3 linked regions of the Homo sapiens genome follow. The protein of the gene in region 3 purifies or fractionates together with the protein of the main gene of each other region. This does not show direct contact. Each region holds a gene or a part of one and is shown on either strand. Other genes may lie near its edges.

The links. The genes of interacting proteins can lie anywhere in the genome.
Region 1: the proteins of DDX17 (region 3) and DHX9 fractionate together in Homo sapiens (co-fractionation; 3 studies listed by BioGRID and IntAct, with this or other methods). This does not show direct contact.
Region 2: the proteins of DDX17 (region 3) and DROSHA purify together in Homo sapiens (co-immunoprecipitation; 3 studies listed by IntAct, with this or other methods). This does not show direct contact.

The regions. Positions count from the first base shown.
Region 1 is NC_000001.11:182,842,347-182,849,346, reverse strand, and holds part of DHX9 (ATP-dependent RNA helicase A), read right to left. Parts: intron 6,803-7,000; 5' UTR 6,781-6,802; coding exon 6,670-6,780; intron 6,054-6,669; coding exon 5,913-6,053; intron 1-5,912. UniProt on the Homo sapiens protein: Multifunctional ATP-dependent nucleic acid helicase that unwinds DNA and RNA in a 3' to 5' direction and that plays important roles in many processes, such as DNA replication, transcriptional activation, post-transcriptional RNA regulation, mRNA translation and RNA-mediated gene silencing.
Region 2 is NC_000005.10:31,529,094-31,535,939, forward strand, and holds the start of DROSHA (ribonuclease 3), read right to left. Parts: upstream 3,001-6,846; 5' UTR 2,897-3,000; intron 2,433-2,896; 5' UTR 2,357-2,432; intron 1,832-2,356; 5' UTR 1,705-1,831; intron 13-1,704; 5' UTR 1-12. Other genes in the region: UPF0489 protein C5orf22, read left to right, coding at 3,300-3,380, 5,179-5,324, 5,866-5,958, 6,651-6,800. UniProt on the Homo sapiens protein: Ribonuclease III double-stranded (ds) RNA-specific endoribonuclease that is involved in the initial step of microRNA (miRNA) biogenesis.
Region 3 is NC_000022.11:38,503,234-38,511,120, forward strand, and holds the start of DDX17 (probable ATP-dependent RNA helicase DDX17 isoform 1 precursor), read right to left. Parts: upstream 3,079-7,887; 5' UTR 3,005-3,078; coding exon 2,718-3,004; intron 1-2,717. Other genes in the region: DMC1 (meiotic recombination protein DMC1/LIM15 homolog), read right to left, coding at 6,060-6,195. UniProt on the Homo sapiens protein: As an RNA helicase, unwinds RNA and alters RNA structures through ATP binding and hydrolysis.

The DNA of each region.
Region 1 (7,000 bases), on a different chromosome or scaffold from region 3:
GCTCCAAAATAATCTAAGAAAGGGGAGTAGTTAGAAATGAGTAAAATTGAAAGTGTTGCAGCCAGATGACGGAAACATGGAGTTTCACTATATTATTCTTTTATACACATCTACAATTGTCCACAGCAAAAAAAATTTTAAAATATCCTCTACATGCTCACTTTTGGCAAATGCAATTTATGGCATGAAAGGGTAAGTTCCAGATGAAATAAGTGATTATGAAAAAGGATTTCCCTAGAATGAGGAGGTAAGATAAAGATGGTAGCTGGTAACAGTTTGGTTACGTATCGCTGCCCAAATGTCATGTCAAATTTTAATCCTCAATGTTGGAGGTAGGGCCTGGTGAGAAGTAACTGGATCATGAGGTGGGTTTCTCATGCATGGTTTAGTACCACTTTCCTTGGTACTGCTATCCTAGCAACAGTGAGTGAGTTCTCATGAGATCTGGTCATTTAAAAGTGTGTGGCATCTTCCCCTTTACTTTCTCTTGCTCCTGCTATGTAGGACATCCCTGCTTCCCCTTCACCTTCTGCCATCATTCTAAGTTTACTGAGGCCTCTTCAGAAGTCAAGCAGATTCCAGTACCACACTTCCTGTAAAGCCTGCATAATTGTGAGCCAATTAAATCTCTTTTCTTTATAAATTATGCAGTCTCAGGTATTTTATAGCAATGCAAGAATGGACTAATAATACAGTGGGGTTAAAAGTAGAAATGGGTTGTTATAATTTTTTTTTCCAAATTCATCCATTCATTTACTCAGTCAACCAAAAAACATTTAAGTATCTGCTATAGACCAGGAACCATTCTAAATGTTGGAGACACAGCAACGAACTAAAAACAAAAAAATCCCTGCCCTCACGAACTTACATTCTAATACAATGAAACAAAAATAAATTACGTTGGAACAAGGTTTCTCATCTTGGTGACATTTTAGGCTGGTTAATTCTTTGTTGTAGGAGTTTGTCAAGTGCATTGTAGGTCATTAGCAGCATCCCTGGCCTTCACCTTCTAGATGTCAGTGGCCTCCTCGAGTTACAACAACAAAAATATCTCCATACATCCCCAAACATCCCTTGAGGGGACAAAATGGTCTCCAGTTGAGAAACACTGAGTTAAAAAGTAAGTGTTACGGAGAAAAATAAAGCATTGAAGGAGTTTAGGAAGTAACCTGAGGGTGACAATGTTTATAATGTTAAATAGGACAGCTGGGGAAGAGTCCTTCAGGTATAGAAGTTTTGAGGCAGAAAGATGAGGGCTTATTTGAAGACCTATGAAGAAGTACAGCTACTGTAGCTGGAACAGAGGAAATAAGGAAGAAAGTAGGAAATCCACAGAGCATTTAATAGGAAACACCTGAGCCATGTTAAAACAATAATAAAAAAATCACCTAGGGGATTACTTCTGGTTGTAGCCAAGTAAGTTCCTGTAAGACTGACCCTCCTGCAGGTAAAATAAACTTTAGGGGGAAAAAATACAAACACACACACAACACACCAGAACTATATGCAGGCAATAAAAAATGAACGAAAAAAGCAGGTAGATTCTTGAGAGAAGTTAAAATGGGGAAGCACGGAGTATCAAGGGTCTAATTCCAGTTTACTGTAGCTTTTAGCCTGAGAGAAGCCATCCCAGGCAGCTAAACCTCCAATGAAACCATCTTTTTGGCCTGAAGAATCAGAATTAGAGTTCAGGGAAAGCAAAGCTGCTAGAAAGTGAGGGAATGCTGGAAAGGAAACAGCCAGAGAGGAGGAGCCCCGAATTCTGTATATTGAAATCTCTGGCTAACCCTTGAAAACCACTCATGTACAGGGCAGATTCCAAGCTGCCCAGCAAAGGAGACCTGAAGGACTCTTCCATGGCTGTCCTAAATGATCAGAAAACTGAGGTGAGATCTGAGTTAACATCCAAAAGACAGCATTTGCAGTTTGAGTCCAGTTAAATTAAATGCCTGATTAAAAACAAAACAAAACAAAACAAAAAAACCAAATCAATGCTCTTTGGAGGAGTATAACATTATTCAGAGTCTCCACAGCATAATATTCCAATGCCCAGAATGCAATAAAAAATTATTTGATACACAAAGAGGAAAATGTGATCCAACCTCAAGAAAATATACCTATCAAGAGAATCCAACCCTGAGATGACTCAGATGTTAGTAGTAGTAGGCAAGGATTTTAAAGCAGCTATTAGAATTAAGCTTCATGACATAAAAGAAATCCATATTTATATTACAAACATACACTTATAACGAATGAAAAGAAATGCCACCAGAGAAAACATACAGAAAAGAATAAGCTGGAGATTTTAAAAGTGAAAAAGGTAGTGTCTGAAATACACTGGGTGGGCTTAGCAAAATGGAAGGGACAGAAAAAACTATCAAAGAATCTGAAGATAATCAATAAAAATTATTCAATTTGAGAAACAGTGGAAAAAATGATAGGAAAAAAAAAAGAGAGCCTCAGGGACCTGTGGGATATCAAGTCTTTATAAATATAAACACCAAGAGGAAAGAAGAAAAAATAAAACAAAAAATATCTTAAATAATAGCTAAGTCTCTCAAAGTTGGTGAAATACATAAATCTATGGATTCAATAATCTCAGCAAACCTTGAACAAGTTAGAACACACACATACAAAAAAACCCATGCCCGGTCACAACACAAAATACTAAAAACCAAAAATAACAGGAAAAGATCTTAAAAACACAGACTACCACATTACATATGGGAGAGAGTGATTTGATTATAGCTGACTTCTTACAGAAAACAGCAAGTAGACAGTGTCATATTATCTTTAAAGCCTATCTGGTCTCTGGCTGGACTCAGTGGCTCACGCCTGTAATCCCAGCACTTTGGGAGGCCAAGGCGGGCAGATAACCTGAGGTTGGGAGTTGGAGACCAGCCTGACCAACATGGAGAAACCCCGTCTCTACTAAAAATACAAAATTAGCCGGGCATGGCGGCACATGCCAGTAATCCCAGATACTCCTGCCTGAGGCAGGAGAATCGCTTGAACCCGGAGGCAAAGGTGGCGGTGAGCCGAGATCATGCCACTGCACTCCAGCCTGGGCAACAAAAGCGAAACTCCATCTCAAAAAAAAAAAAAAAAAGTACATCTGGTCTTCAATCCCATTTCCCTGGCATAGAAATCCTAAATCCTTATAATCTCCTAAGTGGAGACTTTCTGTATGCTAACGAGTTGACTGCTGGCTGGCAGGCCCTAGGTAGCTTCAGGTGTGGGGGGATGGTCACCAGAACCACCAAGGAAAGATTAGAGGGCTGAAACTTTCGGTCCCACCTCCCAGCCTCTGGGGAAGTGAGAAGGGCTGAAGGTCAAGTCACCAATGGCCAACGATTTAATCAATACTGAATAATGAAGTTTCCATAAAAACCAAAGGACAGGGTTTGGAGGGCTTCCAAATGGCCGAACAGGTGGAGGTTCCTGAAGAATGGTGTTCGAGGCAGGGCATGGGAGCTCCCTGCTGCCTCCGCCATATCTTGCCCTACTTATTTCACCAACTGTATTTTGTAGTATTCTTTATAATAAACTGGTAAATGTAGGTTTTCCTGAGTTCTGTGAGCCACACTAGCAAATTAACTGACCCCAAAGAGGCAGTCATGAAAACCATAACTTGAAGCTAGTCAGTCAGAAGTTCTAGAGGCCCAGACTTGCAAGTGGTGTCTGAAGGGGCTGGGGAGTCTTGTGGGACTGAGTCCTCACCCTGTGGAGTCTGACGCTATCTCCAGGTAGTGTCAGAGTTGAACTGGAGGATACCCTGCTAGTGACTGCTGCAGAACTGATTGCTTGCTTGGGGTGTGTGGAAAAAGTCCCCCACCTCCACCCCACATTTAGTCACAGAAATCTTCTTTGTTGATTGTTGTGGTATGAGAGAAGAGGAAAATTGTTTTTTTTTTTTTCCACTTACATACCAAAAGAGGGAAAAAAATATCTGGTACCCCAGAATTCTACATCCAGTGAAAATATTCTTAAAGAAGGTAAAATAAAAATATTTTCAGAAAGAGAATAAGAGAATTTGTCACTAGCAGATCTACAAGACCATAGAGAAGAGCCTAAAAGATAAAGAATAGAGGGAGACTTCAAACATGTAAAAGACATTTGCAAAACTGTTTTCTCTACCAGAAGGCATTTTTAAGATGATCTTGCCCAATCCCTTCATTTTACAGATAGGCAAACCAATAAAATTAAAGACTGTAAGATACTATAATTACCCAGCAGTTAATCTACCGGAAAGTAAGTCTATCGAGTTCTTAGTCAAAGGAATGGAAGGAAATAAGATTTCTTTCATAACGAGTCAGAATACTGTCATAAACAAGGCAGAATACAAAAATTCAGTAACAGGACCCTGTTAAAACTGGCATAGACAGGCTGGGCACAGTGGCTCACACCTGTAATCCCAGCACTTTGGGAGGCTGAAGGGGGCGGATCACTTGAGGTCAGGAGTTCAAGACAAGCCTGGCCAACATGGTGAAAATCTGTCTCTACTAAAAACACAAAAATTAGCTGGGCGTGGGCCAGGCGCCGTAGCTCCCACCTGTAATCCCAGCACTTTGGGAGGCCGAGGTCAGGAGTTCGAGACCAGCCTGGCAAAAAATGGTAAAACCCCGTCTCTACTAAAAATACAAAATTTAGCTGGGCATGTTGGCAGGTGCCTGTAATCCCAGCTACTTAGGAGACTGAGGCAGGAGAACTGCTTGAACCCAGGAGGTGGAGGTTGCAGTGAGCACTGCACTCCACCCTAGGTAACAGAGCAAGACTCCGTCTTAAAAAACAAAACAAACAAACAAACAAAAAAAACCTTATTTCTTAAAAACTACTAGAGCCTAGTGTAGCGGCACACACCCACAGTCCCAGCTACTGGGGAAGAGCTGAAGTGGGAGGATGGCTTGAGGCCAAGAGTTTGATTGAGCCCCAAAAAGAAAAAAGGCAGAAAAACAAAACAAAAATCCCCCAAAACAACCTACTAGACAGAGGTATTTGTTGCATACTTACGTAATATAATTAAGATAATCATGACATAAAAAACACAAAAATACTCCATTGCATAAAATACTATTTTGTTATATAAGGACATGTCAGCCAGGTGCAGTGGCCCATGCCTGTGATCCCAGCACTTTGGAAGACGGAAGTGGGTGGATGGATCACTTGAGGTCAGGAGTTCAAGACCAGCCTGGCCAACATGGTGAAACCCTATCTCTACTAAAAACATAAAAAATAGCTGGGCATCATGGAGCGTGCCTGTAATCCCAGCTACTCGGAGGCTGAGGCAGGAGAATCGCTTGAACCCAGGAGGCGGAGGCTGCAGTGAGCCGAGATCACTCCAGCCTGGGCGACAGTGCAAGACTCTGCCTCAAAACACAAAGAACTTGCCAGAAGTGGTGGCATGCACCTGTAGTCCAGCTACTAAGGGGGTTAAGGATGAAGGACTGCTTGAGCCCAAGAGTTTGAGGCTGCAGTGAGCTATGGTTGTGTCACTGCATTCTAGCTTGGGTAACAGAGCAAGACCTCATCGCTTACGGGGCAGGGGGAGTGTCAATGGGAGCAAACATGTCTAAAATATTACTGATTTTTCTATTTTATTTAAAGTATTATCATTGGTAATGAATGGAACATAACAGACTCTGAAATTTCTGGTGTATAAATACATGAAATAAAGCCATAAGACACAAAGATTAATGGAATTTCTCAAGCCCCTAAGACAGGTATATAATAAGGATGCAATCCACATCTTCAGAAATTTTGTCCAGTGCTGAGACAAAACAAGATGCCAAATTTCATTACGAAACACGATATATCTGAAAACAGTGAAAAATTACTATCTTGAGTCTCTTACGCATATTGAGTTTGTACAACTTTACAACATACATCTCAAGTGCTTCGCCATAGGTACTTACCCCAAAAGCTGGAACTTCTTCACTCTTTATTTCATTTATTCGAACCAAATAGTTAACAAAGTCTCTGGCAGCATTGCTTTGTGCATCTTTTTTATTGGTGGAATTTCCCATGCCAGTGTAATTATAACCTTCCACCTGAACCTTTAAAAAAAAAAAAAAGTACTAAGAGACTGACCTGGGTAATTCTGAGATTTTAAAAAGTCGTAATTCAGTAGTCCATTAAGAGACAACAAACAGCTAACTTTAGGAAATATACTCTATAAATATAAATATAAAAATAAGAGAATGCATGAGCTACTGAAAAAGCTTAAATTGTGTTGTATCCAAAAATAATTTAAGTGGCTCAGATTTTTTTTTCTCATATAACAGAAGGTTCACATTAAAATCTGATTCTGTAATATCCATGAACAAGCTCTCCATTTGTATTTAAGCACTTTGATTTGAAGCAATCAAGAATTGCTCTGCTTTCTAAACGTGCTTATAAAACTGCAAACAGTTGATCCAACTTTTCCCATCCCCACTACTGGTACTGAGGAAGCTGAGGAAGATATAGGCTCTAATTAGAATAATTTACCTGTCAGATTGTTTTAAAAGTAATGCTGACTTGAAAATGATTTACAATAGCAGTCAAGTCACAATAAAGAACTGTCGTTTCCTAATGTGCAACACATTAACATCTCCAAACAGAAAACATTTTTCTTTTAACCCCAAAATGAACCTCATAAATCACATAAATGCAAACTGTATTCTTCAGTACCTCACACATGAATTTCTGCCTGTTTTTGTTCCCCACTGCTCTAATTTCATAGGATGGGGTCATCTTCCTTTTGCCACACCAGGCATACAGAAAATTTTTAACGTCACCCATGATTCAAGTGTCTTCTTCAGATCTAAGAAAACAAAAGTCAGTTAAAAACAGCATTTATAATAGCAAAAACTGGGAGGAACCAATTATCTAGATTACTGAATCTGGGTTAAACATAGGATATTCTATCATGTTGCTATTAAGACTCCCCATAAATTTTAACGACATAATTGGAACGTTTATATGTTGTAAGAAAAAGGATACAAAACGGTATGATTTGAAC
Region 2 (6,846 bases), on a different chromosome or scaffold from region 3:
AGAATATAAGCTCTAAAAAACAGAAAGAATAAAACAGACATAAACATGTTTCCCAAACTGCCAATGCTACAAAATATTTCTGCAATTACCATAACACTAATTTTGTAGTTTCCAATACACTTAGCCTACAAACAAAATTAAAAGCATGTTGAACTGTGTTAAAGTTTCCAACTAAATTTTTAATGTCCTTAAATTTTAAAATGTCATTATTACTAGTTTTGCCAACTCAAAACTATCAGCAGCTAAAAAGACTTATAGGCATAGATCATCTCTAATTTGTTAAAAGACTTGGGAAAAATATCATTTCCCCTCTCCCCCTTCATACTCTCGTTTCCTTCATGGTAAAAACAGGTAGGCATAGGCCGGGCATGGTAGTTCACGCCTGTAATCCCAGCACTTTGGGAGGTCGAGGCAGGTGGATCACGAGGGCAGGAGGTGGAGACCATCCTGGCTAACACAGTGAAATCCTGTCTCTACTAAAAATACAAAAACTTAGCCGGGCGTGGTGGTGGGCGCCTGTAGTCCCAGCTACTCGGGAGGCTGAGGCAGGAGAATGACATGAACCTGGGAGGCAGAGCTTGCAGTGAGCCGAGATGGCGCCACTGCATTCCAGCCTGGGCGACAGTCTCAAAAAAACAAACAAAAAAAAAAAAACAAAAAAAAAAACAAACCATGTAGGCATAGACCAAACACAAAAATCACAGTGAGACCAGCATTCAAATTCAAACATAACCAGAATCTTGTTAACACACCAGTTAATGATTCTTAATTTTCATTCTCAGTTCCTCCCACATAAAAACACTGTAAACATGAATGATTTTCCAAATACTTGAACTTCAGCAAAACATTTTTTAAAAACTCACATAAATATTGAGTACAAAAAGCTGTAACATAGAAACATTTTCTGAAAGTCTTTCTAAAAGTCTCATCAATAGAACTTTACTATGTAGACTTTCAAATGGCTCATGAAAATAATTTCAGATTATGCTAGCAGTCAGTGTGCTTAATAAATAATAGGCACCAAATAATATCTGATTTTTTTTTTAAGACACAAAGTCTACTCTGTCCCTAAGCTGGAGTGCAGTGGTGCAATCATAGCTCACTGCTGTCTCTTACTCCTGGGCTCAAGCAATCCTCTCACCTCAGCCTCCAAAATAGCTGGAACTACAGGCGTGAGTCACTGCGCCTGACTCCTTATTACTATTATCCAGTCCAGTACCCTCATGATAAACCTGGGGCCCGGACAGGTGCTCCTGCCACCATAGGCTACTCACTGCCAACAGAATCAAGTTCAACCTCTGTGCTTGGCATTTAAGGCTCTATTGACTCTGGACCCAGGCTTGTTCTCCAGTACCTTCCCCAGAAAGACCCTACTACCCCATGTTTTCCCAACAGATTACCATTCGAGTACAAAGAACCAGCTAGTTCTTTGCTCCCGTTCTCCTCTCTAAAATCTCCCACCCTAGGCAGAGGTTGCAGTGAGTTCAGATCGCGCCATTGCACTCCAGCCTGGGCAACAAGAGCGAAACTCTAGCTCAAAAAAAAAAAAAAAAAAAAATCTCCCAACGTATGAATCTGCCCAGTGATTTTCTATCCATCTATCAATCTTAAATGCCACCTCCTCTATGAAGCCCTTCCTGATTCCCTTAGGTAATCCCATTCCCTCTAGACTTAGTCTATACTTAATCCTTTTACAGCACTTACCAGAGACTGCCTCATATCATAGTGAAGTATGCACACGTCTAACTCTTCCACTAGATTATCAGCTCCTTGATGATATGGGTTGATTCACAGTCATTTCTGTATCCTTCACATCCCCGGGAAAAGCAACCTACACACAGTAGGTGGTCAATAAATGTTTACTCTCTCACCAATAGTATGTTTCCATGTTGCTACTGTACATTTCCCTTCCATGTACCTCCGCAACAGAAAGCAGGCCTTTTCACTGAGTCATGCAATATTTAATGAGCCCATAAATGGGAAGCACTGTCCCAGGCCCTGTAGACTCAGAGATAATAAGACACACAGCCTGTAGGATTCAAGGAACTCAGAACCCACGTACAAGTAAGTGTTTTAAAAATACAAAATAATGCAATAAACACACAAAAAAGAGGTATGTGCAGGGCTTAGGGGAACACAAAGGTGTGTGCCGCACCTAGAGGTGGGCAAAAGTCAGGGTCACGAACACTCTTGTACAGTGTGTAACAAGAGCTGAACATTCACTGCCAGATCCTCATGGATGTTTCAGTAGTTAGAAAATCTAAAAATACTAATCATGAAATTGACCTATTGAAGGCATAGTCCGGCTGTGTTGTGGATGCAGACTTTAATTCAAAAGTCAAGGAATTCACTGCACCTGGAAAAGTAACTCTCTTTTCTCCGTCTGTCTCTTCTCGGTTGCGGTTTGGAAACAGAGACACTGAAGGAGCTGTCTTGAATAGTTAACACGGCCAGAACGTCAGTGCATGTAAAAAGAATTTTAAAGTGTGACTACATTTTTATTGAGAACTCCCTCTTTCCCCAGGTGGATCTGCAGGGCAGTCACCTTCATCCTGATCCATAACTGCACATTTACTGTTTGCATCTCCCGCCAGACGGTACGCCCCACGAGGCAGGCGCTGAGCTCAGGATCTCACTCCCCTCCGAGAGCCGGGCGGCCCCAGGCCTGGACCATAGTGTGTGCTCCACAAATGAATGAAAGGTCTCCTTTTTCACTTCCACTTATTTGCGGGATCCAGGCCTAGCGTCGCTCTTTTGCCCTTAGCTGCAGATCTGAAGTGGGGCTGCCCGACCCCAATTCCCGGACGCTTTTCACCCCAGCCCCGGAGACTCCAGCCCCGTTTAAATCCTGACACTCGGAAACTCTCTTCTAACACTTGCAAGGTACCCCTTTTACCTATAAAAGGCTCTCGGGCCGCGAGATCGCCGTCAGAGCAAAGCCAGGCTACTACCGCAGGTACCAAGACAGTGGCACCGCCCGCGCCTCCGGAACAGGAAACCGAGGGAATTAAAAAGCAAACCTGAGAAAGCTGGGCCAAGGGAGGGAAAACTCTTCAGCCCACCGCAGGGCCTTGTGCGCGGTGATTGGCGCGTCAACGAAAGCGATGGACGTCTAGACCAATCGTCAGCAAAAGACCCTTTGGAGCCCGCGCCCCCTCCCCCTACGTCCTCCAATCCGAAAACGCAACCGGGTGAGGGAGCGCTTCCGCCCGGAGAGAGCTGGCCGGGATGAGGCGCCGGCTTTCCCGGGTCTTCTCCAGCTGCCACCGCTTTACTGCAAAACTGACGGGCGCAAAAACATGAGTGACTCCGCGGGAGGGCGCGCTGGTCTCCGGCGTTACCCCAAGCTCCCAGTGTGGGTGGTGGAGGATCATCAGGAGGTGAGCGGACGGCAACAGGGCTCTGGGGCAGAATCAGCGGAAGCCCTGACGCTCAGAGGGCCAAGCAGAGGGCGCAACCTTAGCATCGGAGGCCAGAGAGTTAACCAGAGTTAAACTGCCCTATTCCGTTGCTGTGGAGAGGACCCCAAAACAGCTAACTAGGAAGAATGAGAACTGACATTTATGGGCGCTTCCTACGAGTCGGGGCAACTTATTTACCTCGGTTTGCCCCCAAATCCCAGAACCAAACAAAAGGTGGCATCGGGATTCGAAACCGGACAGTCTGGCTGCAGAGCCCTGTGTTCTTAACCTGCAGTTAACTCTGGCTTCCAAGTATCTCCTGGAATCGCCACCACAGCCCTGCTGTTTAGATGGGAGGCTTTATGCTTGGAACGTGGGCTCTGATCTGAAATGGGGACAGTAATCGTAGGACTCACAGGGCTCTTAGGAGTATTATTGTGTGCATACTGTGTTTAAAAATCTTTTTTTTTTCTTTTTTGAGACGGAGTCTCTCTCTGTTACCCAGACTGGAGTGCAGTGGCGCGATCTCGGCTCACTGCAACCTCCGCCTCCTGGGTTCGAGCGATTCTTCTGTCTCAGCCTCCTGAGTAGCTGGGATCACAGGCACGCATCACCGTACCCAGCTAATTTTTGTATTTTTAGTAGAGACGGGGCTTCGCCACGTTAGCCAGGATGGTCTGAAAGTCTGACCTCACGTGATCGGCCCCCGCCGGCCTCCCAAAGTGCTGGGATTGCAGGCGTGAGCTACTGCGCACGGCCCATATTGCGTAAAAAAAAAAAAAAATTTAACACGGTGCCCTGCATAGATAAACACTAAAAGGGGTTTCCATGTTTATGGCCGTGCTGATTTACAGTAGCCAAATTGGTGTCTTAATCTAGACTTTTCCAAGTCAACAAAGGAGGCCCATGGATCTAATAAATATGTTTTAAAGTAGCATCAGTAGGCTTGGGATGGGAGGCAGTTCTCTGGACGTTAAAAAAGAAGAGGGATTTACTGTTGGTGACAGCTAATAGGAGAGGAAGATAGGTTTCTCAGGACCTGGATATAGTGTCTATGACCTTGAGAGAATGAGAAAGCCTAGGTTAGACGGTGCTTTCAAATTAGGTATTAAACCTAGAATTAGAGAAGATGTAAGAGGAGAAATGGCCTTTATAGACCACCTAGCCCAACCCCACCATTCTAAGTGTACCAAAAAGACCCTAACCAGCCTGGACAGCAGAGCGAAATCCCATCTCTACAAAAATAGAAGTGAAAAAATTAGCTGGGCGTAGTGGTGCGTGCCTGTAATCCCAGCTACTCAGGAGACTGAGGTGGGAGGATCGTGTGAACCCAGGAGTCCAAGGCTGCAGTGAGCCATGATCACACCACTGCTTTCCAGGCTGGGCAACTGACAAGCCCCTATCCCTTTTTAAAGGAAAAAAAAGAATACTTTGAGACCTAGGGTACCTTGAACACCTAGTTAATGTTAGAACAGGCATTAAGCGGTAGTTTGTTCCTGAGCCCCAGTCCTGGTCTGTTTCCCCACATGACCTGTTGAGTTCAAGGGGGCAGCAGGAAGGCCGCTGGAGATGCAGGTTGGAAGTTCTGAGGACAAAGTAATGCTTGAGATTATCATCTGCACCATCTACAGTAAACAAATTTTATGTTTTTCCACTTTACAGCAACATAGTATGCTTTCAATTATGTGCATTATTTAGCATTGTTTTTCAGTCTGCAGTTGAGTGTGTGCTCATGGTTTCAGTGTTAATTCTTATTGTGTGCCTGTGTCTTTTACAGGTTCTACCCTTTATATACCGGGCCATAGGCTCAAAGCATCTTCCTGCCAGTAATGTAAGTTTTTTACATTTCGACTCACATCCAGACCTCCTTATTCCTGTGAATATGCCAGCAGACACCGTGTTTGATAAGGAAACACTCTTTGGGTAATATGTGATTTTATTTATGGTCTTTTGTGTTTGAAGTACAATTTGCAGTAGATAATAAGCAATTATAGGAAATAGACTTTGCTAAACTCATGGGTTTGGGGGTTTTTTGTTTGTCTTTTTGTCTTTTTCATTTTATTTAGAACAAGTGTTGACAACTTTCTTAAAGAGCCAGATTAGCAAATATTTTAGGTTTGCTGGCTATATGGTCTCTGTTGCAACTATTAATCTTTGCCTTTGTAGTGTGAAAGCAATCACAAGCACTGTGTAAACAAATGACAGTAGCTGTGTTCCAATAAAGCTTTATTTACAAGCTGGGCATGGTGGATGAGCCTGTAGTCCCAGCTACTCAGGAAGCTAAGGTGGGAAGATCACTTGAGGCCAGCAGTTCCAGGCTGTGATCAAAGCCTGTGGATAGCTGCTGCACTCCAGACTGGGCAACATAACCAGACCCCATCTCTTAAAAGAAACAAACCAAAAAAACTTTGTTTACAAAAACAGCCTAGCCAATGTTTAATCCTTTTAATATTTGCCTTTATAGAGACCATTGGATTCTCACGTCTATTTCTGCATTTAGTCCATTGCCATATGCTGTTTTGGTTGAAATATATGATGAAGATTCAGGCTTTCACAGGCATGTAATTGGAAAAGGAAAGAATATTTTGATAGCCTTTTTAGATAATTGTGAATATTCTTTGATAGTGCGCCAAAACTTGAAAAGTAGTAGTTTATTAAAGCTTATTTGAAATGTAGAATTCAGCAATTCAGTATCAAGTGTGAATAACCATAGTTTCTTGACCACTCCTTTCAAGATAAATGGTGTTCACCTCAAAGTTCAATCACAAGTGCTTTTCCTTGAGACAACTGTTATGCTTCAAACTATGTAGCAGGAGAGCTTTCTGTGCATTTCTCATTTTGCCACACATAATATTTAAAAATGTATACTCAGGATGGAAATTTAATAAAATCAAGATGTTCTCGAATGACACTTTTATATTTATTTATTTATTTATTTTGGCAGTGGTTGGTAATGAAGAATATAGTAACTACTAACAGTTTGGTGCTGCTGCCTTAATTAATGTTGGAACATCAACCCACCAGTGCCTTTGCACCATCTTTGCAAATGTCAGTAAATGAAAACAGGAAATAATGCCTTAGTATTTTCATGAAAATAGTTTTGTAATAGTGATGTCCCTGAAAAAGTCTCAGGAACCACTCTAGGGACCACACTTTGAGACCTGTGGTCTTAAAATGTTGTGGATAAAATTACACTTGGGAAAAAATAAAAATAAAAGTTTTAATGTTGTCTCTATGTTTCTTTTCCAGAGAATTAAGTATTGAAAATTGGATTATGCCTGCAGTTTATGCTGGCCATTTTTCACATGTAATATGGTTTCATCCCACATGGGCTCAGCAGATCAGAGAGGGCAGACACCACTTTTTAGTAGGCAAAGACACTTCTACCACAACAATCAGGTAATTTCCTCATATTTGTGAATATGGAAGTGATTGAATGTTTCTA
Region 3 (7,887 bases):
AAATGAAGCAGCTAAATAAGGTACTTTTCAAGAGGTAGAAAGTCTTTGGATTATCACTCTTGCAAATTATAAAAGACTTCATTGTTATTGCCACATTGCAATGCTACCCAAACCTTAGTGACTTAGGAAAAAATAAAACTTGAAAGTAAGATTCCTGTTAAGGCTTTAAACTGATGATTATCATTCATGTATTTTTTTTTCCTCTCTCCTTACTTCCCTGGCTATTTATTCAAGACATTCTATTCTACACTAAACATTTAATTTGAAACATGTGGTTCTTGGAAAATATGCCGTCTTCCATGTTTATAATTAATGCTGACATAATTAATGACCTCAAAATTCAAGAAAGCCTTTTACTTTTGAGCATATCCATGCCATCTTTAAATACGCACACTGTACTCTCTGGTATACTATGCTGCTCAAATGTTTTTATCCGGTCAGTAATTAGTTTAATTTGGCTTTACAAAAAAATTCACCTTTGAAGTCATATATTAACATTAAAAACCATACTACTTCAAATGTACAATGCCTATCATTTTTGCATCACACATGTGAAATACATGAACTGACCTCACCTATTCCTTTTTCAAAATAACCACCACTTCAACTGTGTAACACTCAGTTGAAACAACAGCAATTCAAATAATCAAGAACATTTCTTGGGAAAGGGAGAGTTGGGGCACAGATCTTATGAAAGAAGGCTAGTTCGTTTGAAATTTTTAAAAAATGTCATCTGATACTCAAAGTATGGATCAGTAATTCACTTTTTTCCTTTCAAATAACTTATTAAAGCATATATATGGTGAAAGGAAATATTAAACCAAACACCAATGGTAAAGAAATAGAACACTATTAGTAACTTGTAGCCCCTCTATGTGCCTATTTCAAGCTTACAACTTTCACCCTAATAACCACTACCTTGAATTTTGTTAACCACTCCCTTTCCTATCATATTTGCACATATCCTTAATTAAATGTGTCACCCTACCACAACGTGCTTTTTAACTCAACACTTCTGTGACTTATCCACATTAATCCAAGTTCTTTTCTCTTTTTCACGGCTGATTCAATTGTACGAATACCCACAATTTATGGAGACATTTGCGTTGTTTCCAATATCCTGTTAGCACGAATGCTGGTATATAAACTTTTCTGTACAAGGATCCTGGGGTACCTGTGCAAGGATTTCTCTAGGCATTACAGTCTAGGGTATAAAGCTTAGGGAGGAATTGCTGGGTCGTTTTCAACTTTCCTAGATAATCTCAAGTTCTTTTTCTAAGTCAATGAACTGAAATTCACTTCTAAACTTAGCAATACTGTCACACGCGAAGCAAACATTCCACCTCTCATCCTCTAAACAATGAGATAAAATATTTTCCTTCCTAATAAGGTATAAATCAAAATAATTTTGTAAAAAGTGGCAACTGAAGTGCTTGAGACTAGTAAATCCAGCAGTTGTGGATCTGAACCACAAAAGACAAAAACGTTTGGAGAAAATATCGTTAACAGAGCGCCTACTACAGTGAGACTATTACATCCATTATCTCTTAATTCCTGACAACACAGCAAAGTAAAGGCAATTATCACGTTCCTCAGAGGAAACAGGCTCACAAAAGGTAGGATCTTGACCAAGGTCACACACACACATATCAAGTGGCGTCACGTAACTCTTTGGGGAAGCGGGGGGGTCGGGGGAGACGGAGTTTCGCTCTTGCCACGGGCTGGAGTGCAATGGCGCGATCTCGGCTCACTGCAACCTCCTCCCCCCGGGTTCAAGCGATTCTCCTGCCTTGGCCTCCCGAGTAGCTGGGATTACAGGCATGCGCCACCAAGCCAGGCTAATTTTGTTATTTTTAGTAGAAACGGGATTTCTCCATGTTGATCAGGCTGGTCTCGAACTCCTGACCTCCGGTGATCCGCCCGCCTCGGCCTCCCAAATCGCTGGGATTACAGGCCTGAGGCACCACGCCCGGTCCACAATACCAAGAACTTTCTAGCGAGGCAGAATAGTTGACGCTGCAGTCCAATTAGAGAAAAAAGGCTGAAATATTAAGATTAAAACTAAAGTAACGACCCAAAAACCCATCCTTCCCCCAAACACGGTCATTTAGATGGCAAGCAACTCCACTGCTTTACATCCCAATGCATTTCCTCCGACTTAAAATATAACTGAAGAGAATTAAAATCTATTTCTAAAAATGAGAAGTTGGTCTTTTCGTCTCCCGTGCCTTAAACAGTGAACTCTGGGGAGAGAACGTCAAGGGTGCCATTTCGTGTAAGGCTTTCCTGGGCTGAAGTGTTCTCTCAGGAAGATCCGCGTTTTTCAGATGAACGCCGAGGCCTGGAGACATCGAACAGCCCGCCCGAAGCGGCCCGGCTCGAGAGCCGGGAAACCAGGCGAGGCGCCAAAGCCCGGGCCTGGGCTGATGCGGCCAGGCCGCCCCTCCCGATCCCCCGCGGGGCTGGGATGGGGCCGGGCCGCGCCACGACGGCCGTCCGCACGGAGAGGCCCAGCGTCGCCAAGCGGCCGCCCTCCTCGGGTCCCGAGTGACCCCGGGGCCGAGGTCCGCGCACGAAACCGCTGTCTCGCCTCGAGTCGCCTCCCCTCGCCTCCCGGGTCGAGAGCAAGGCTCCCAGGCTCGCAGTCCGCCGGGCCTCCCCAAGAAGCAACTCCCCCACCCCCACGCCAGGCCTCTCCTCTCCTCCCCCACCCTTACCCTCCACGGTCACGATCCCGGTCCCGGTCCCCAAAGCCTCCTCCGCGCATGGTCCCAAAAGGATAGAGATCTGGGAGCGGGGCACGGATGGCCGGGCTCGGGAGGGCCTGCGGCTCCGGTCTGGTGACGACCGATGGCGGCGGCGCCTCCGCTGTTGGGGCGGCGGCAGGCGCAGCGCTCTCTCGCTCCGACGCGCTGTCTCCCGTCGCAGACGCCACCGTCGCCGCCTCTCTCGTCGGAGACGGGAGCAAAACACAGAGAATCGGGGCTACAAAGCCGGTGGGCAGGTTTGGCTACGCTCAAACCGGGCAGTGCCGCGGTTTAGGCGTCTCCTTCCTTCCCAGCGACTGCACAAAATGGCGGCCGCCGCTGAGTCGGCTCCAACTTAACGCTGCGTACGGCGGAGACGATACGTAAACAGCGCCTCGGAATAGCCCGAGGGCTCCGCGGGGAACTACGGGTATTCTTGGAAGCACTTTACGTCAGTTGCGACGATGGGTGTATTTTGCGGTCTGTACAAGAAAAACAAAGTACGGAGCGAGCGTAGAGTTCTCGCGCCACCCGAACTAGAACGTGGGATGAGGTGGGAGGAAGCGCCTCTGGTGCGACGTAACATTCTTTGCGTCGTTAGCCGGCCTGCTGTTGCTAAGATGCGCAGTATGCGTAACGCATTCTGTTTAGAGAATAGAGGATTTTGCCTGATTCCGATCTCGGTACAGACCCCGCGGCCGGCTTGAAGAAGTTGCTTTGCAGAGACAATAACCGTCCTCCATATTGTTATCAAGTTTCAGAGTCCTCTGGCGCCAGAGGCCGGGAGGGTCTTAAATTCCGTGGCTGGCCTTCCTATATGGCGCCGCCAGCCCTCTCGCCCCACCGCCCTGGGCCCGCTGAGAATGGCGGCGGGCCCCGGCGCCATTTCCTTTCCGTTGCCTTTCGCTGCTCTGTCTCCGGCAGCCATGATGGAAGAGCCGTGTCCCTTTCTTTCCGGAGTTTGTGAGGTGGCGATGTCCCTTCCAGGTTAAAGTGCCCTCAGCTACATTTGGTTCACACTGAGGTGCATTTTCTGAACCGTATATTTTTACCGTCCCTGGCCGAGCACAGCTGTTGCTAATACAGAAACAAAATGTGCTTGGAGGCCAGGCATGGTGGCTCACGCTTGTAATACTAACACTTTGGGAGGCCGAGGCGGGAGGATCACCTGAGTCCCGGAGTTCGAGACCAGCCTGGCCAAAATGGCAAAACCCCGTCTCTACGAAAAATACAAAAATTAGCAGGACATGGTGGCGGGTGCCTGTAGTCCCAGCTACTTGGGAGGCTGAGGCAGGAGAATCGCTTGAACCCGGGAGTCGGAGGTCGCAGTGAGCCGAGAACGTGCCACTGCACTCCATCCTGGACGACGGGGCAAGAATCCGTCTCAAAAAAAAAATTGCTTGGAGCCCCAGTGGACTCCGTGGGCCCTTTGCTGCCGTTGAACGGCGCTCCTCAGAAGGCCCGGAGAAGACCCCAGCACTCTCAGGAGAACAAGGTTTCAGAGCGATGGTCTTTAGACACAGAAAGGGCGAAGGCTAAGGACAAGTGTTTAACCAGGCTAGTCCACGTTCTCCGCTCAATTCCTTCCAGACTGGCTTCCCTCTCCTTACCTGCTTCCTGTCGTCTCAAACTGCATTTTGAAGCCCCGCAAGCTTGGCCAAATGGCGTCACACGACTGTTGAGCTGTTAGGGCCCTCGAGACGGGCCCATCTAACGTCTCAATTCAACAGATGGGTAGAAGCGGGGAGATTTGGCCCCTCAGTGTGGGTGCTGAGTGTTTGTTTCCCAAATTTTTGGGAACATAGCATAAGAAAAGGAGCTTCAAAAAGAAAAAAAACATGGACCACTGATTTTTCTGTGGTTATGTGTTCTTTTTCCCCAAGTACGTTCTTAACATTGGCAAGTGAACCTCTTAAAGTGATTGAGACTCGCCTGGGTCATATTCTTTTTCTTTTTTTTGTCTGGAGTGCAGTGGCACAATCTCGGCTCACTGCAACCTCTGCCGCCCGGGTTCAGGCAATTCTCCTGCCTCAGCCTCCCGTGTAGCTGGGATCACAGGTGCTTGCCCTCGCACTTGGCTAATATTTGTAGTTTAGCTGGGGTTTCACCATCTTGGCCAGGCTGGTCTTGAACTCCTGACCTCGTGATCCACCCGTGTCGACCTGCCAAAGTGCTGGGATTACAGGCGTGAGCCACCGCACCGGCCTGGGTCATGTTCTTTTATTTACACTGTTAACCTGCCCCAATCCTCATCATCTCTTGCCTGGATGACTGCGCTCGCCTCTTTTTAATCTGCCTGCTCCTGTCCTTGCTCACTCTGAATTTATTCTTCACACTGCAGTCATAGGGGTCCTTTTATTATGTCACTTTACTTAAAATTTTCCAGAGGTTTCCACTTGAAAGAAAAGACAAAGGCCTTACAGTGGCCTACAAGCCCTTGAGGATGCAGCCCTCTTCTGTCTTTCCTCCTTGTTCTACTCTAGCCACACTCGGCCTCAGGGCCTTTGCACTCGCTCTTTACTCTATGTCAGCAAGGCTAGATACCTCAGTTTAGGTCTGTGCTCACATGTCACTCAATCAGGGAGGCCTCCCCAGAACCCAATGCAACACTGCATAACCTGCATACTCTCCTCCTTCACAAGTACACATGCATTCTCTCTTTTCCATTTTTCTTTGCTTTCATTTGAATTAGTAACTGCTTGACATAAACACTTTTTGTCTCCCTCCTAGAGCGTAAAATCTGTGAGTGCAGGAACTTACTTGTTCACCACCGTGACCCAGTGCCTACCTGGCACAGTGCCTGACCTTTTAGCCATTCGACCACGCCATACCCTTGTCCAGTGAGTCTGTGACTGTCCCTTTGTGTTTCTGGGCCAACTGACATCTCAACGGCTTTTGTTTTTTGAGACAGAGTCTCGCTCTGTCGCCCAGGCTGGAGTGCAGTTGGCTCACTGCAACCTCCGCCTCTTGGTTTCAAGCGATTCTCCTGCCTCAGCTTCCTGAGTAGTTGGGATTACAGGCATACGCCACCACACCTGGCTAATTTTTGCATTTTTAATAGAGACAGGGTTTCACCATGTTGGCCAGGCTGGTCTGAAACTCCTGAATTCAGGTGATCTGCCTGCTTCGGCCTCCCAAAGTGCTGGGATTACAGGCGTGAGCCACCTTGCCTGGCCTTTGTCATCAACTTTTATTTTAATTCTGGGGTACATGTTCAGGATATACAAGTTTGTTACACAAGAAAACGTGTGTCATGGTGGTTTGTTGCACAGATCAACCCCTTGCCTCGGTATTAGGCCCAGCATCCGTTAGCTATTCTTCTCGATGCTCTCCCTCCGCCGACCCCCAACAGGCCCCAGTATGTGTTGTTCCCCCGCTCCATGTGTCCGTGTCCTCTTCTGGGTCTTTGATAGTCTTCACTGATGCTTTCTGCTCACGCTCAGATAATCTGCATTTTCACGTAAGATAAAATAATCATAGAGCAGAGGCAGCAGTCAGCTATGTGTTTGTTTCAGGCGAGCAGAGGGATGACTTTTTAGTTTTGTCCTTTGTCCTGTGCTTGTGATGGTAAACCATCAATGTACATTGTCGGGGTGAAATTCAACGGAACTGTTTTAGTGTAAAGATCTTGGAGGCCCACAAGGAATTTCTTTGTGGGCAAATTGTGAGAGGCCTATGTAGCTTTTTTTGTTTTTTGTTTTTTTTTAGAGACAGAGTCTCACTCTGTCGCCCAGGCTGGAGTGCAATGGCGCGATCTTGGTTCACTGCAACTTCTGCCTCCTGGGTTCAAGCAATTCTCCTGCCTCAGCCTTCTGAGTGGCTGGGATTACAAGCATGCGACATGACGCTAATTTTTATATTTTTTAGTAGAGACTGGCTTTTGCCATTATTAGCCAGGCTGGTTTTGAACTCCTGACCTCAAGTGATCCACCCACCTTGGCCTCCCAAAGTGCTAGGATTACATGGCCACCGCATCTGGCCTTCATTATATATTACGGTGTAATAATAATATAAATAGGCCGGGCCTAATAGAAATAGTCTGGCTAACATGATGAAACCCCGTCTCTCCTAAAAATACAAAAAAATTAGCTGGGCGTGATGGCGCATGCCTGTAGCTACTCAGGAGGCTGAGGCAGGAGAATCGCTTGAATTGGGGAGGTGGAGGTTGTAGTCTTAAAAATGGTATTTACAGGCTGGGCACAGTGGCTGACGCCTGTAATCTCAGCACTTTGCGGGGCTGAGGTGGGCAGATCACTTGAGGTCAGGAACTCGAGATCAGCCTGGCCAACATGGTGAAACCCCGTCTCTACTAAAAATACAAAAAATTAGCCAGGTGTGATGGTGGGCGCCTGTAATCACAGCTACTCGAGAGCCTGAGGCAGGAGAATGGCTTGAACCCAGGAGGCGGAGGTTGCAGTGACCCAAGATGGCACCATTGCACTCCAACCTGAGCGACAGAGCAAGACTCTGTGTCTAAAAAGACAGAAAAAAGAGAAGTTTCCTCTAGAGCGCTGAATGACAAGAGACAATGTGGAGAGAGAAGTCTCATACTTACAAGTATATCCTGCCAAGACCCCAGATATACAAGTGAGGCCATCCCAGACCCTTCAGCCAGCCTACTAGCTGAATGTAGCTGCGTGAGTGAGCTATTTCCTTCCTCCCCGCAAAATCCCTTATCTTTTTCTTCATGTTTTCATCTTAGGATATGAAAAGGAAACTGCTGTAGTTGTTTTTTAACCATGAAGGGAACTTTTGGAGAACAGAACCAGCACACCGAAGGTGGGGAAAGTGGAGAGAAGGAAAGAACCTGGGCCCTTGATGACATTATAGAGTCACTGTATTAGCCAACTGTGGAGCTGGTTGACTTCTGGACTTCTTATTTGAAATGACATGCTTCCTCATTGTTTAATCTACTTTTTTGAGCTTTGTGTTACTTGTAGCTGAAAGCATTCTAACTGATACACTCCTCAACCAGCTCTTCTAATACAAGTACAAAATCTGAAACAAGTCAGGCATGGTGGCATGTGCCTATAGTCCCAGCTACTTGGGAGGCTGAGGCGGGAGGGTCGCTTGAGCCCAGGCATTTGAGGTTGCATTGAGCTATGATTGTGCCACTGCACTCCAGCCTGGGTGACAGACT